Regions from separate parts of the Homo sapiens genome. Here region 1 is linked to region 2. Evidence: fine-mapped expression QTL. A gene starts in region 2. The other region holds a variant in brackets. All regions are shown on one strand. Distances are from middle to middle. Region 1 overlaps LIG1 (DNA ligase 1). Region 2 holds the start of LIG1 (DNA ligase 1).

Region 1 (5,364 bases), 34 kb after region 2:
ACACAGGGGCAGCAGTTCAGGTGAGGGAGGACCAGGCATGTGCTGGGACAGGGGGTGTGGGGTGCAGGGAAGGGGAGGGCTGGGGAAAGATGCTGGAGGCAGAGACAGCAGGATTTGGGGGCTGAGATGGAAGGTTGGGGCTTAGAGAGGTCTGAAAGGACTTTGACTGGAGGGATTGGAAGGAGTGGGAGGAAAGAACATGGTGTGTGGGGGGCCAGCAGCCTGAAGGGGCCCAGCCGCCAGTGCTGGGTGGAAAGGCTGGTGATGCGGATGGCCCGCCTGCCAAGGGCCTGGAGTGCTCGGTGCTTATCATGAGGACACTGGGGAGCCATGGAAGGATTGTGAGCAGGCAAGGGGCAGCATCCAGGGGGAAGAGGAGCTGGACCCCAGCTGTAGAGAAGAGAGAAGAGGGCAGGAGAGATCTGGCAGACAGTGGATGTCAGGGTGAGGAGGCAGGAGGAATGCCTCCAGGATCTCCCTGGGTGACTGGATGGATGACAAAGCCGTCGGCAGCTTGGGACCCTGGTGAGGGGCAGGCACCTGCAGGGGGCATTAATCACCCCAGCGTGGGGCAGGCATGAGCAACCTCTATCTGTGGGCCCCCAGGGCCATCCAGGAAGTTTGGAAACGGGTCTGAGGCTCACCAGGTCTGGCTCAGAGCCCAGGGTTCGGGCTGGTCAGTGTAGGAGGGATGACCACCCACTGGTGGGTTCTCATCCGCCTGGGGAGAGGATGTGCTGGGAGCACTGGAGCTGGCTTAGGGCCATGGGCACCAACATTTAGGGAAGGCAGGGGTTTCAGGCTTTCATGAGAGGACAGAGGGACTGAGAAAGGTTGACTTGGATCAGGAAAGAGTTACGGGCTTATGGGAGCCAGAGGAGATGAGACTCAAGATTTTCTCACTCATTCACTCAAGATGTGTTTCGGGAGCACTGACGTCATACCAGACCCAGCACACACGGGGTCGGTTAAGAATACTCTGAGCTGCAGGTAACAGAAAACCCAACTACATTGGCTTGGACAAAGAAGGATCTGTTTTTCTCACAAAAGAAGTTGCAGATGCTGGCTTTCCTGCCCAACAATCCATGGCAGCTGGGGCCTCTTCCACTGTCTCATGCCTCCACCCTTGATGGGTCGTGTTCACACTCACACTGCTCTCCGTGCCGCCTTGTGGCCCCCGTGGCTGTCCAAGTCCCGGGTTTGTTGTGAGTTGTTGGCCACTTTGGAGAATCCCGTCCCCTTTGATGTGTGATTCGATAACATCCCATTGGTGAGGCTCACACTGTCGGCTCTCCCATTTGTGGCAGTTTCGCTTCAGGCGCGAGGCCCACCTTCATGTGCTCTGTGCCGCGGCTGAGCATCTGTGGACTGAAACGCGCACTTGTTCGTTCATTACGGATTGCTTTCCCTTTCATTCTTTTCTGTGTTAGGGTTAGGGCGTTATCTCGATAGGTGTAGGCAGGTTATGTTATCTCCACATTTTATTTCAGACCAGAAAAGAGGTGACACACAGTATCTGGTGACAAGGGTGTGTTGGTTCTGATAGGTTGAGAGCTGCTTGTCACAGCTGTCACCGTGACTTGAGGCTCCATCTCCCCAGCTCTTACACCCAGGCGCCCATGGGACCCAGCTCTGGACAGTAAGTGGGGCCAGAGCACATCCCACGTGTGTAAGCTGGTGGCTCCAAAACAAGCCGAAGGGTCTTTGGTCACTGCCAGAGATGTTCATGACCCGCCAGAGGAAAGGGTCCCTTGGCCTTCTCTGCTCTGTCCACACTCACTTCCCTAGTGACCTTGTCCCGCCTGTGGCTTTAAATCCCATCCGCGCCCTGATGACACCGGCCCAGATGTCTCCCCTGAGTGTGGTCATGCTCGTTCATCCACCGCTTTCCTGGCTCCACGTGCATGTTTGCTGACTTCCTACAGCCAGCGTGGCTGGGGGCACGTTCCCCAAGCCATTTCTACCAAGTGGGTGAGCGTTAGACACAGGGAGGTGCAGGGACTCGCCACAAGCACACACAGCTGGAGAAAATTCATCCAGGCCGCGAGAGAAGGGAGACACGCAGCCACAACTGTCACCCTCGACACCCCCACCCGCGCTCTCCCCTGAAGGTCGGCAGCTGGAGTCCGTCCGGGCTGAGGCAGCCGAGAAAGGCGACGTGGGGCTGGTGGCCGAGAACAGCCGCAGCACCCAGAGGCTCATGCTGCCACCACCTCCGCTCACTGCCTCCGGGGTCTTCAGCAAGTTCC[G/A]CGACATCGCCAGGCTCACTGGCAGTGCTGTGAGTGGGGCGGGCCGCTCATCCCGGACCCCAGACATCTTGGGGACCTGAGGCCACGCGTGTGTCAGGAAGGCTTCTGGGTAGACCATCAGCTGGGTCGCATCAGTCCTTCTCATGGGGTGCACAGCTTCCTCTCCTCCTTCCTGCACCCAATCCTAGGGGAGTCTCCTCTTCAGAGTCTAGCAGACCTAATGCCATGGCTGCCACATGACAGGACTCAGTAAATACTTCCTGGATAAAGGGAGAGGGAGGCAAGGAGGAGAGCTAGCTCGTTCTTACTGCCCTAAGAGTGGGCGGCCATGGGAGCTGGGACATGGGGATGGGGTGAGGGAAGGAGGGCAGGTATTCCAAAATGCAGGGCAGCAGCACGGCTGGTGGGGTGGAGGTGTGGTCCCTGCCTTCACCAGGCACTGACGGCTCTTCCCCTGACTCTCCAGTCCACAGCCAAGAAGATAGACATCATCAAAGGCCTCTTTGTGGCCTGCCGCCACTCAGAAGCCCGGTTCATCGCTAGGTAAGCGTGTGGGCCTGTGAGGCTACAGAGGGGGACTGCAGGCTCGGAGGTGAAAGGAGGGAGGGACTGGCAGCTGGAATCATCACAAATGCCCTGACCATCCTTGGATGAGAAAAGCATGAGCAGGAGGCCCAGCCCCTAAAGAGTGGGAAGGGACACCATTTCCTTTCACAGGCCAGCTTCTGTCCCTTGGTAGTGCTGTCTAGAGAAGGCCCCTGGGCCCCTGTGGGTGAAGCATGCTGTGATTGATTGGTGAGGTCTGCCTCGGCTTGGGCGCGGGCCCTGCAGCAGGAAGCCAGGGTTTGTTTGCCATGACAGTGAGAGCAAATCCATTGAGGGCTCACATCATGGAGCATTTCTTGGGAGCCCTGCCCTGTGCCCCGTGCCTTACCTCATCAGTTCCTACCAGCAACTCTGTGAGACTGGTCTTGTTACCCTCACCTCCAGTTTATAGAAGGGGAAATGGAGACATGGGGAGGCAAACTAAGCCACTTGTCTCCTGCCACTGGCTCAAAGCAAGGACCATGCTGGGGTCCTGACCATTACAGTCACCAGGGCGGGCGCCAGGCTCAGTTCTCTCCCTGACTCATCCTCCTCAAGCCTCGCCAACCCCTCAGGGCAGCTGAGATGGGAGGTGCTGGTGCACCTACTTGTGCCCCTCCCCAGTCTATGCTAGTGGGCAGGATCATTACTGCCTGGCTCAGTTTCCTCATCTGTCACATGGGGCTGTGTGATATCTGGGGTCCCTTCCAGGCTCTGAAGATTCTTCTGGTTTTTGAGGAGAGGGTCTACATACATCAAGGTCGAGGAGATCAGAGAAGGGAGGAGGCAAGATTGGGGAGGTGCAGACAAGCCCCCTTCCCTGGCCTGCTCTCTCCCCAGGTCCCTGAGCGGACGGCTGCGCCTTGGGCTGGCAGAGCAGTCGGTGCTGGCTGCCCTCTCCCAGGCAGTGAGCCTCACGCCCCCGGGCCAAGGTGAGCTCCTGTGGCCCGTCTCTGCATCCCTCGCTGGAGTTACCTCAGGCTTCCCCCCTCCTCTTCAGAGGCCCATGCCCGCCCCTTCCCCAGCGGGCCCCTGCCATACCAGGCTCCTCTCTCCTGGGTGGGGGGGAGGGGGCGTCTTGGGCCGCGGCATCTGCATTCCTTGCCATACAGCAAACCACCCACTGCACCCTGGTGTAGCCAAGGATGTGGGTGCCTTCCAAAGCCTCTGGTGGGTCTTTTCTTAGAATTCCCACCAGCCATGGTGGATGCTGGGAAGGGCAAGACAGCAGAGGCCAGAAAGACGTGGCTGGAGGAGCAAGGCATGATCCTGAAGCAGACGTTCTGGTGAGAGCTGGGCAGTGGGTGGAGTTGCCAGGGGCTGTGGGCAGAGTGCCAGGGTGGGGGTGGAGCCAGAGGAGCAGTGGGTGGGGCCAGTGAAGTGACGGACAGGCATCACGAGTGCCGGTCACGGGGTGACTGAGAGCAGAGGTGGTGATCTAGACAAGGCTGGTGCTTGACACAAGGATGGTGACAAAGATCAGGAAGGTGGCAAACAGTGAAGGGTCAGTGACCCCAGGAGAGGTATAGAAAGACGCTGGCAGCGGCCAGGCACAGTGGCTCACGCCTGTAATCCCAGCACTTGGGAGCCTGAAGCAGGCAGATCACTTGAGGTCAGGAGTTTGAGACCAGCCTGGCCAACATGGTGAAACCCTGTCTCTACTAAAAATACAAAAATTAGCCTGTAATCCCAGCTACTTGGGAAACTGAGGCACAAGAATCATTTGAACCCAGGAGTTGGAGGCTGCAGTGAGCTGAGATCACGCCACTGCGTTCCAGCCTGGGCAACAGAGTGAGACTGTCTTAAAAAAAAGAAAGACGCTGACAGCAAGGGAGGGCAGCCGGCAACATGAGGTTTCTGAGTGCCAGACAGGGCTGTGCATGCAGAAAGGCCTTAAGGGACCCAGAGAGGAGCAGGTGACTGACACATGGTGAAGGGTCTTGACAGTCATGGAGAGGACATCCGTGGAGCGGCCACGAGGGCTCCAGAGAGAGCCATGTGGAGGGACCTAGGCCAGCAGCTGACCCAGGGCTGGTGACTCCAAGATCATGACTGCCCCAGAGAGGATGTCAGAGGCAGGAGGGCCGATGGCAGTTCCACAGATGGCCTCAGAGCACCTGCTCTGGGCCAGGGCCCCCCACTGGGTGCTGAGCAGAGAGTGGTGAACAGGCCCGGGCAGCAAGCTCAACTCTGCCTGCACGTGGGGCTCTATCAGCTGCTGACCTCAGGCCTACCCCACACCAGCTACATCAAAATCTTTGTAGGTGGAACCTAGCCTTGAAAACCTTTGTCTATTTTTATTTTGTTTGAGACGGAGTCTCGCCCTGTCATCCAGGCTGGAGTGCAGCAGCACAATCTCAGCTCACTGCAACTTCCGCCTCCAGGGTTCAAGTGATTCTCCTGCCTCAGTCTCCTGAGTAGCTGGGACTACAGGCGCGTGCCACCACCCCCAGCTAACTTTTATATTTTTAGTAAAGATGGGATTTCACCATGTTGGCTAGGCTGGTCTTGAACTCCTGGGCTCAAGTGA
Region 2 (5,364 bases):
TGAGGTGGGGGAATCTCTTGAACCCAGGAGTTGGAGGTTGCAGGGAGCCAAGATCGCACTACTGCTCTCCAGCCTGGGCAACAGAGTAAGACCCTGTCTCAAAAAAATAAAGACTAAATAAAATACAATTGGGGTCCATTAAAATACCCCTGGCCACCTGGGTGTGATTCTGGCTCTCCTGGATTTCTCACCTGCCCCTCTTTGCACAGTTGTAGGGAACTACCTGTGAGCTTGTTCTTTTAACGTCAATCTTTCTGTCCAGTCAGAAAGTACCAGAAGGGCAGGGATTTTTGTCTCTTGCCCAACTCCATCGCTCCAACTAGAATATCCCCAGCCCACAGCATGGGACCTGGCCCCTTATTCACTGAATAGATGGATCCTTTTCTTTATCCTGCGGCTTCTCTGCAGTTCAGTCTCCCAGTCTCTGTCTCCCAGTCTTTGTCACGTGTACAAAACCTGGCTCTTCTGTTTCCCTGGCTGTCTCTGGTGTCTCTGCCTCCATGTCTCCATGTTTCTGGAATTTTCCGTGACTATTTTCTCCTCTTGGGGTGTGTGTGTTTTACGCTCTGCCTCTCGAAGTCTCTATTACATTCTGTAAGTCAGGCCGGGCACAGTGGCTCGCGGCTGTAATCCCAGCACTTTGGGAGGCAAGACGGGCAGATCACCTGAGGTCATGAGTTTGAGACCAGCCTGGCCAACATGGTGAAACCCCATCTCTACAAAAATCCAAAAATTGGCCAGGCGTGGTGGCGCGTGCCTGTAATCCCAGCTACTCAGGAGGTTGAGGCAGGAGAAACAACGCTTGAACTCGGGAGGTGGAGGTTGCAGTGAGCCGAGATTGTGCCATTGCACTCCAGCCTGAGTGACAGAGCAAGACTCTGTCTCAAAAAAACAACACAAAGCAAAACAAAACAAAAACAAAAACAAAAAACCACACAAAAATTAGCCGGGCATGATGGCAGGTGCCTGTAGTCCTAGCTACTCGGGAGGCTGAGGCGGGAGAATCACTTGAACCTAGGAGGTGGAGGCTGCAGATGGCACCACTGCACTCAAGCCTGGGCGACAGAGCGAGACTCCATCTCGAAAAAAAAAAAAAAGTCTGTAAGTCGGGCCCACACCATCTCTTGCTCCGTGAGTATCTTTGTCTCTCTAGCTCCTCTTCTTCTCTCAGTACATGTCCCTCCTTGACTCCCGCCTCTCTGCAAGGTGTATTTGGCTGCCTCAGTTGGCCTCTCCCCCTCTGCATCTCTGGGTGGGGTGTTCTCTGCCCGTCTCCCACCCACACCCACCCCCGGTGCTCCCCTTCCCCCCAGCAGGACAGCGGCTCAGGTTCACGCACCCCACGGCGGGCCGGCTGGGCGCACGCACGTCCTTGCACACAAGCCGCACGTAGCTGTACTTGAGCACGTCGATGAGCGTGTAGAGCGGGGGCGCACTGGCCCAGCGGCAGCGCGCCAGGTGCATGGAGCTCTTGACGAAGAAGAGCGCCAGCCGCTGCTGGCACCACGCGTCGAAGAAGCGGCTGAACTCGGCCCACGAGAAGAAGGCCCGCTCCCGCAGCTCCTGCTCCTCCTGCCCCGCAGCCGTGCCGGGTGGGGGCTCCGGCCGCTCCATCCTGGGGGCCTGCGTGGAGGAGGGGAGAACAGGTGGATATCAGACCCATTCCCACCCGGGGTATCTCATCTACTCCATTCTTGGCCTGCCCCGTCGGTTGCTGGTGCCTCTATCGAGGTGGGTAGCCCGGGGTCGGACGTGCCTGTTTTTCTCCAAATATATAAATATCAACCTCCATCCTATCTTTGGCCTCCTCCCACCGCCTTATCCCTGGTTCACTTGGAGCCTGTCATCTTGATTCCTAATTCCAACTCGTCTCCTCCTCCGCAGATGTGACCCTTAGGTACAGTTGGAATCTCTCCTCCCAAAATACGACCCTTAAGCTCAGATGTCCCTTAAGGACATCTCCTCAAATGTGTTCTCAAATTCCAGCTAAAACCTCCTCCCCTTCCAGCTGTGTCTCTCACCCAAGAGTAACTTCTAACTCTCGTATTCATCTGGAACTCCTCCTTCCATGTGCCAACAGTTGGCTGTAACCCCTCCAAAGACGCTCCATCTCCAGATGTGCTCCCACATCCAGGCCACGGACCCCTCACCCGGTCACATGCTTCATGCACCTGTGGCTCCGCACTCCCCAGATGTGCCTCTGGCGTGCAGCTGTTGCCCCTTCCCCCGATTATGACCCTATGGCTCGCCACATGCAGCTGTAGCTGGGGCTTCCCTGAGACACTCTCATCTCCAGATGTACTCCCCACATGCAGTTATCCACGCTTCGCCTACAGGTGTGTGCCCCACTTGTGGCTAGTTCTCCTCGGAAGTGTCACCAGTATTCACCTGTGGTCCCCTCCTCCTCAGATGCGGCCCCCAGTCCAGCTGTGGGCCCCTCCTCCCAGTTACATCCACCATCCCCCGCAATATGCATCTTCGTTCTAGACATGGCCCCTCGTCCTCGGATGGGCTCCTTCACCCCAGATGCTCCCCCCACGTCCAGCTGCGCGTCTCCCCTCGAGCAGCCCCATCCAGCCCGCTCCCGACCCTCCTACTCCCCCCCTCCCCGCCCGCTGCGGCACCTTCCAGCCCCGCCGTCCCACCTAGCTGTGCCTCTCCCCTCCCCAAGATGTGCACCCTTCCCGCCCCTCCCCACTCACCTACCCGCCCCGGAGCGGCGTCCACCTCCCACAATGCCCCGCGCCCAGGCCTGGCCCGGCCCTTGCTCCCGGGATGCCCCGCGCGGTCTCCCGCCTCTCTTCCCGCCGTGCCTCGCGGGGGCGCTTCCACCGATTCCTCCTCTTTCCCTGCCAGTCACTCCTCAGACCCTCAGCCACACCCGCTCATCCAGGGCGAGGGAAAGCGCGGGCATTTTCCCAGTGTGCTCTGCGGGAGGGCTCGCCCCACTTCACCCCTTTTCCCGCCCTCCTCCCATTCGGGAGACTACGACTCCCAGTGTCCTCCGCGCGACGGCGGCGGTGCGGACGGTGCCCAGGTCCCGCCCCTAGGCTCTGCCCCGCCCCCGCCCGCAGACGTCTGCGCGCGAATGCCGTGGCGCGAACTTGGGACTGCAGAGGCGCGCCTGGCGGATCTGAGTGTGTTGCCCGGGCAGCGGCGCGCGGGACCAACGCAAGGCAAGTGGGGCCGTCCGCAAGCAGATGGGAGGCGGAGGGCGGCGGGTGCGCCGAATGCTTGGGGCCTATGCTTCGCCATGTCGGGGTGTCTGCAGAGGAGTGGGCGTGGGGACGCTGAGGCTGCCGAGAGCGCGGTGGAGACGGAAGAGCGCGGGCTGCGGGCCGCCGGAGAGTGCAGAGAGGTGTCTCCCAGAGGGAGGGGGGCCAGGTAGAGGGTAGACGAGAGACAGAGACAGTTGGACAGGTCCTCTGAGAAGAGGCCTTGAGGTGCGAGTTCACCTGGAAAGGGGAGAGGCCAAATGGAACTGAGGGGCGGGGCCGGGGGGGGGAAAACTGTGTGGGCGGGGCCAGCTGGAAATCGGAAGGCCCCCCGAGGGGGCGGGGCTATCTGGGAGGGGGAGGGGCTGAAGGGAGCTAAGGGGCGGGGCCGGGGAAAAGATTGCGTGTGGGCGGGGCCACCTGGAAGGGGGAGGTGCCAAGGGTGGGGCTGGCTGGGAACCGGAAGTGCTGAGGGGGCGGGGGCCACCTGGAAGTGCTGAGGGGGCGGGGCTAGAAGAAGGTAAATCGCGGGCAGCAGCATCACCTGGAAGGAGTGGGCCCTACTGGAGGGAGATGGGTGGTGTCAGGGAGAGGTCAGTGGTAAGGTCCAGGTCTAGGTAAAGGGCTCGTAAAAGATGGAGAATCATCTGAATGGGGAGACGTCTGGCCTAATGTATGCTTGATAAAGGGATGGAGCTTACCTCTTGTTTTTACTTTTTATTTTGAAATAATTATAGATTCAAGGAAGTTGTGAAAAGAGTATATCCATCTTCCCCTAATGGTGACATCTTATGTAGTCCCAATATCGAAACCAGGAAATTGACATCAATACAGTTCTGTTAACTAGATTACAGACCTTGTTCAGTTTTCACCAGTTTGTGTGGTGTGAGTGTGATTGTGCATCTGTGTGCCCGTGCAGCTTGATTCCTTGTATAGATTTGTGTAACCCCCATCGTAATTGTGATATAGAACAGTTCCCTCTCCACATAAGAACTCCTCCCCAGGCCCCTGGCAACCGCTAATGTGTTCACCATCTCTAGTTTTGTCATTCGGAGATTGTTATGTAAATGGAATCATATATTATTAGGATGTTACCTTTTTTCTACTCTGCACAATGCCCTGGAGGTCCACCCAAGTTGTTGCTTGTATCAGTGCTTCGTTTCTTTTTATTACTGAGTACTGTTTCATCCTTACTTGATATTTTTCCTGTCATTATCTCTTCATTTTGGTAACCGCTTTATTGAGATATAATTCACAATTATACAGTTTGCCCATTTAAAGTGTACAATTTTGCCCATTTAAAATGTACAAGTCAGCGGTTTTCAGTGTATTTAAAGTGTATTTCAGTGTATTTAAAGTGCCCATTTAAAGTGTACAAGTCAGTGGTTTTCAGTGTATGCGCTGAGTTGTGCAGTTATTACCATAATCGATTTTAGGATATTTTTATCATCCCCCCAAAAAACTCCTATACCTTTTATCCATCATTCATTTAATTTTAACCCTGAACAATATTCTACCATATGGTATTCCAGTAATGAGGGAACCAGTTCCCTAAGGGTAGACATTCCACCAGTTTCCAGTCTTCTCTCATTACAGTTAGTGCTGCAGCAGGTAACTTTGTGCCTCACTTGGTCCACCTGTGAGGGTCTCTGTGGGCCAAATACACAGAAGTGGGGTTGCCGTTCCGATAGAGACGCCAGGTGGTCCTCCAGAGGCATCAACCAGTTTGTTCCCCCCAACTCAGCAGTACACAGAGTTGAGAAGCCAGCCTTGAGTACCGTGGTAAGGAGAAAGGAACGTGGGCTTTGGAGCCAGCCACACCGGGTTTTGAAGCCTTGCCTGAACCCCAGCTATGTTCCTCTGTCCTCATTACCTTCATCTATAAAGTGGGGATGATCTCACCTGTCTTGGAGGGCTGACTTGAGGATTGAGGGTATTTGAGAATGTGATCAGCCTGTCAGGCATAGAGTAGGCTTCCCAGTAAACGCTTATGTATTTCTCCTTCCCTTGCAACTCAGTCTGGTGGTTAAGAGGTGAGCTGTGGAGCAGGCCGACCTGGGGTGGAACGTACTATAGATGCAGGTTAAGTTCCTTTGAAAACCCCTCTGTGCCTTAGTTTCTGTAACAGAGTTGTTGTGGAGAGTCAGTA

Evidence for each region.
Region 1: its variant is fine-mapped to the expression of LIG1 in whole blood (TOPMed, PIP above 0.99).

Annotation. Positions count from the first base shown.
Region 1 is chr19:48,134,436-48,139,799 of GRCh38, reverse strand. LIG1 (DNA ligase 1) reads left to right here. Exons shown (of 28, transcript NM_000234.3): 13 at 2,112-2,278; 14 at 2,716-2,792; 15 at 3,675-3,766; 16 at 4,021-4,120. Among named protein-coding and RNA genes, the nearest start is that of LIG1-AS1, 8.7 kb to the left of the region's middle. The variant G/A (reference allele first, on the strand shown) is at 2,250.
Region 2 is chr19:48,168,053-48,173,416 of GRCh38, reverse strand. It overlaps LIG1 (DNA ligase 1), which reads left to right and starts at 3,073. Exons shown (of 28, transcript NM_000234.3): 1 at 3,073-3,176. ZSWIM9 (zinc finger SWIM-type containing 9) reads right to left here and starts at 2,737. Exons shown (of 4, transcript NM_199341.4): 1 at 2,703-2,737; 2 at 1,340-1,623. The coding sequence starts at 1,614. RefSeq lists silencers at 2,545-2,684, 3,485-3,534, 3,565-3,634 and an enhancer at 2,932-3,591.